2 linked regions of the Homo sapiens genome follow. The protein of the gene in region 2 interacts with the protein of the main gene of each other region in a pairwise test. Each region holds a gene or a part of one and is shown on either strand. Other genes may lie near its edges.

What was found.
Region 1: the proteins of ATXN1 (region 2) and REL interact in binary tests that used the Homo sapiens proteins (3 or more experiments, as listed by UniProt).

The regions. Positions count from the first base shown.
Region 1 is NC_000002.12:60,884,574-60,888,073, reverse strand, and holds part of REL (proto-oncogene c-Rel), read right to left. Parts: intron 1-3,500. UniProt on the Homo sapiens protein: Proto-oncogene that may play a role in differentiation and lymphopoiesis.
Region 2 is NC_000006.12:16,301,037-16,303,460, reverse strand, and holds part of ATXN1 (ataxin-1), read left to right. Parts: 3' UTR 1-2,424. UniProt on the Homo sapiens protein: Chromatin-binding factor that repress Notch signaling in the absence of Notch intracellular domain by acting as a CBF1 corepressor. Binds to the HEY promoter and might assist, along with NCOR2, RBPJ-mediated repression. Binds RNA in vitro.

The DNA of each region.
Region 1 (3,500 bases), on a different chromosome or scaffold from region 2:
CACCTGTAATCCCAGCTACTTGGGAGACTGAGGCAAGAGAATTGCTTGAACCCAGGAGGTGGAGGCTGCAGTGAGCCAAGATTGTACCACTGCACTCTAGCCTGGGTGACAGAGTGAGACTCCGTCTCAAAAAAAAAAACAAACAAAACACAAAAACAACAACAAAAAAACCCAAAACTTCATTGGTTACATGACACTTCTTTAGATTGTTTACAAAAAGAACAGAAAAGTAGTTGTTGAAAAGATTAAATATTTTTAAATAGTAAAAATTACATAAATATCAGTTATCATATAATATTGAGTATTTAAAGTCCTTGGAATTTATTTTTCCTACTGCAGAAGCTCTTAATTGGTAAAAATTAACAAGCTGGGGGAATGTAGAGTATTACAACCAAGTAACACAGTATACTGTAATACTCTACATTCCCCCAGCTGGAAATAATCTCCCCTCCTTTAAACTACCATAGTATTCTGTGTATAGCAATTATTCCAAATAACTGTAATTTAGGGAAAACTTACCGTCTTATTTCTTCTTGAGATAAAGCTACTTGTTTTATTTCTTCAAGCTACTTGAAGGCAGAAATTGTGTTTAACTCATCAGTGCCTTGTACAGAGATATTCATTAAACATCTATTGAATGAATGACTAAAAAATCTTAAGGTCTTTTGTTTATACAAGTTATTCAAACGTTAAATAATCATATAAGTGATTAGTCAGATTTTTTAATTAGATTCCACTACTAAGGAAAAAAAAATAGTGCTTTATAGGTACCAGGATTGCTACACCTCAGTATTTCCTCATACTCATTCCTATTTTGATTTATCTGTGTTTATGATTTTTAAAAAACTTCCCAGCTATAAATCATTTATATAATGCATCAGTACAATGCACCAGTTATCTCCTTCCTCAGTACTGTGCTTTGCACAATGCCATTCTTCCTGAATATAAAATGTGTTGAAATGTAGTCATCTATGGAGTGCAAGAGGGTAAAACATAAATCAGGAAATTGTAGGGAAAATAAGTACTCTTAACTAAGATAACCTCAAATCGCCACAGTTTTGAAAAGCACCAAAACGTCTCCAAAATTGACTCTAAACAAATTGATTACTGTATTTTTCTTTAAGCAACACTATGCAAAGCTGGGACTGACCCCTATATTCTGAATAGTATTTTAAAAGGCTAATATACATCAGAATAACTTCTAAAATACAGCCAAAATGTTTGTAAGATATATCTATGTTTTTATTTGCGCTTAGGCAAGAAAGAGTGCTATTTTAAAACATAGTGCCTATCTAATAAAGCATGAGCTTTTAAAATAAAAAAATTACATTGAAATGTTTAAATGGATCATAAATTATCGGAAATAGACACATTATTAACAAACACTTTATTGCTAGAATTAGCAACCAGCATCAAGTATACAGAAAAAAAAGCTAATTATTGTAATTATAACATTATTTTAAGACCCCTTTATATACATTTCTCATTTGATCCTCTTAACTTTAATCTCCATTTGAAAAATAATAGAAATTATTATCCCATCTTACACATGATAAAACTAAAGTTGAAAATTATATGAAGTTATAATAAAAATGAATTATGAATGGTATGCTAATATGGCAGTGCCAAATTTAAAAAACAAGCATAAAAGCAACTGGAGGTAATAACTGATACAGCACATAATCTGCAATCTAAAATAAATGCAACTTAATTTAAGAAGATAATGCATCCTGGTATAGCCAAATGAGTATTTAGATCCAAAGAAATCCCTAGAACAGAGTTCATACTGGGGATGTACATCAGAATCACCTAGGTAGTTTTTTCAAAACATACATGTCCTTACCCCACTTGAGATGTTTAGAAGATAAAGAAATCTTCATAGTTTTTAAAGCCCAGATACACGTTGCTGAAAAAGCCTTCCAAGAAATTCTAACACACTCCTGATTAAGAATAATTGTCTTAAAACATGAAGTGGAAGCAACAATGCACATATTGAGAGAAGTAATCTAAAAATTCAGGTACAAATATGGACTGGGACGTGAGTAAATTAGGCAAAGCAATTCTGGCTACTTGTAACTTGAACTTGTGTTTATCTCCCACTTAAAAAAGAACCTTATTCAAATGCAAGCAAGAAAAAATGACAATATAGAGATAACCTTCAAATGCTTTCATTTATTTAAAAAGTAAATAATTTACAACACAAATATTTTAACTCTTGCAACACATCACACAAATGATTGTCACACCAGTGTGTCAACACCACAGTTGAGAATAGCTGACTAGACTGCATGTCTCTCATAAAGGTCCTCGGTGACAGACTTTGCCTGAGACCTAAAGGAGCCAATGGAGCTAACAATATATATTTTTCCAAATATCACCTCTACTCAATTTGGAGAAAAAGAAAATAAGATCTATTATTTTTTTCCTCAAACTAGGTCTCTCATCAGCCAAAGGCTATGCCAATATATCAGGCTGACTTTATTACTCCAATACATCAGGCTGACTTTCAACTGGGCCTTAAGAATCAAAGAAAGGAAATTTTCAGATGAGTATTCAACTGATTTATGCACTACAAGGTAAAAACTGTAAAAGATTCTGGCAATAGGGATTCTGTTACCAAGGGGGAAAAAAGGTAAGTCTTGAAAAAACTCTTGCACGTGCCAGGGTAAAATAAATAAATTTTAAAAGCTGTCCTAGATTATACAGGTATTAAAGTTAAAAACAAATGGCAAGACCAAATCACCTCTGTTTTAAAAATAAAAACAGAGGAGGCCCAGATAAATATGAATTTCAGAAAAACAATTTTATCCCATGCAATATTTGGGTCATGTGCCTACAAACAAAATCATTTTCAGAGAACCCATATGAGAGAAAGTTGGAACAAAATGAAATTCTGAGTCCCTTAAATTGTATTTGAGAAAGATACTATGCATAACCTAGATGTTCCTAATTATGATTCATTGTCTGGCTCCTCCCTAGTCATTACATTAACTCATTCCCTTTATCTGTGCCTATCATACGTCACCTTAATTATTTAACTCCATTGTTATTTCTATTTTTTCATGTGTTGCATTTCTGAAACATTCATGCTCATGTGTGGCATTTTACTTAAAAAAAGAAGTCATTTACTGTAGCTATCCATTCCTAACTTCCAGCTCTGTTATTAAAGATTAAGTTGCCTCACACTTACTTCCATTTCTCCCCTTTAATCGAGAAAAACAACAATTCTCTTGAAATTCACACTACAAATAGTTGGTAAGAAGTGAGGTTTACAAAAACAATTCATTTCTGTACTTCCTTCCTATTGTGTGACACAGAAGAACCATACTAAGAAAAATGTGAAGAAAAATAAATTATCTAAATTTTAAAACATTTTACCAAAGACAGCACTAATTATTAGTTAACAGAGCTATATGCCACACAAAGACATTTTGCTCTTTTTACTGGAACAATGAGAAGGTTTAAATTCAGACATAAAATATCTAATTTTACTTATATTA
Region 2 (2,424 bases):
CCATTCTGGCCAGAGCAGGGCTGGAGGGAAGGAGCCAGGAGGGAGAGAGCCTCCCACCTTTCCCCTGCTGCGGATGCTGAGTGCTGGGGCGGGGAGCCTTCAGGAGCCCCGTGCGTCTGCCGCCACGTTGCAGAAAGAGCCAGCCAAGGAGACCCGGGGGAGGAACCGCAGTGTCCCCTGTCACCACACGGAATAGTGAATGTGGAGTGTGGAGAGGAAGGAGGCAGATTCATTTCTAAGACGCACTCTGGAGCCATGTAGCCTGGAGTCAACCCATTTTCCACGGTCTTTTCTGCAAGTGGGCAGGCCCCTCCTCGGGGTCTGTGTCCTTGAGACTTGGAGCCCTGCCTCTGAGCCTGGACGGGAAGTGTGGCCTGTTGTGTGTGTGCGTTCTGAGCGTGTTGGCCAGTGGCTGTGGAGGGGACCACCTGCCACCCACGGTCACCACTCCCTTGTGGCAGCTTTCTCTTCAAATAGGAAGAACGCACAGAGGGCAGGAGCCTCCTGTTTGCAGACGTTGGCGGGCCCCGAGGCTCCCAGAGCAGCCTCTGTCACCGCTTCTGTGTAGCAAACATTAACGATGACAGGGGTAGAAATTCTTCGGTGCCGTTCAGCTTACAAGGATCAGCCATGTGCCTCTGTACTATGTCCACTTTGCAATATTTACCGACAGCCGTCTTTTGTTCTTTCTTTCCTGTTTTCCATTTTTAAACTAGTAACAGCAGGCCTTTTGCGTTTACAATGGAACACAATCACCAAGAAATTAGTCAGGGCGAAAAGAAAAAAATAATACTATTAATAAGAAACCAACAAACAAGAACCTCTCTTTCTAGGGATTTCTAAATATATAAAATGACTGTTCCTTAGAATGTTTAACTTAAGAATTATTTCAGTTTGTCTGGGCCACACTGGGGCAGAGGGGGGAGGGAGGGATACAGAGATGGATGCCACTTACCTCAGATCTTTTAAAGTGGAAATCCAAATTGAATTTTCATTTGGACTTTCAGGATAATTTTCTATGTTGGTCAACTTTTCGTTTTCCCTAACTCACCCAGTTTAGTTTGGGATGATTTGATTTCTGTTGTTGTTGATCCCATTTCTAACTTGGAATTGTGAGCCTCTATGTTTTCTGTTAGGTGAGTGTGTTGGGTTTTTTCCCCCCACCAGGAAGTGGCAGCATCCCTCCTTCTCCCCTAAAGGGACTCTGCGGAACCTTTCACACCTCTTTCTCAGGGACGGGGCAGGTGTGTGTGTGGTACACTGACGTGTCCAGAAGCAGCACTTTGACTGCTCTGGAGTAGGGTTGTACAATTTCAAGGAATGTTTGGATTTCCTGCATCTTGTGGATTACTCCTTAGATACCGCATAGATTGCAATATAATGCTGCATGTTCAAGATGAACAGTAGCTCCTAGTAATCATAAAATCCACTCTTTGCACAGTTTGATCTTTACTGAAATATGTTGCCAAAATTTATTTTTGTTGTTGTAGCTCTGGATTTTGTTTTGTTTTGTTTTTTAAGGAAACGATTGACAATACCCTTTAACATCTGTGACTACTAAGGAAACCTATTTCTTTCATAGAGAGAAAAATCTCCAATGCTTTTGAAGACACTAATACCGTGCTATTTCAGATATGGGTGAGGAAGCAGAGCTCTCGGTACCGAAGGCCGGGCTTCTTGAGCTGTGTTGGTTGTCATGGCTACTGTTTCATGAACCACAAGCAGCTCAACAGACTGGTCTGTTGCCTTCTGAAACCCTTTGCACTTCAATTTGCACCAGGTGAAAACAGGGCCAGCAGACTCCATGGCCCAATTCGGTTTCTTCGGTGGTGATGTGAAAGGAGAGAATTACACTTTTTTTTTTTTTAAGTGGCGTGGAGGCCTTTGCTTCCACATTTGTTTTTAACCCAGAATTTCTGAAATAGAGAATTTAAGAACACATCAAGTAATAAATATACAGAGAATATACTTTTTTATAAAGCACATGCATCTGCTATTGTGTTGGGTTGGTTTCCTCTCTTTTCCACGGACAGTGTTGTGTTTCTGGCATAGGGAAACTCCAAACAACTTGCACACCTCTACTCCGGAGCTGAGATTTCTTTTACATAGATGACCTCGCTTCAAATACGTTACCTTACTGATGATAGGATCTTTTCTTGTAGCACTATACCTTGTGGGAATTTTTTTTTAAATGTACACCTGATTTGAGAAGCTGAAGAAAACAAAATTTTGAAGCACTCACTTTGAGGAGTACAGGTAATGTTTTAAAAAATTGCACAAAAGAAAAATGAATGTCGAAATGATTCATTCAGTGTTTGAAAGATATGGCTCTGTTGAAACAATGAGTTTCATACTTTGTTTGTAAAAAAAAAAAAGCAGAGAAGGGTTGAAAGTTACATGTTTTTTTGTATATAGAAATTTGTC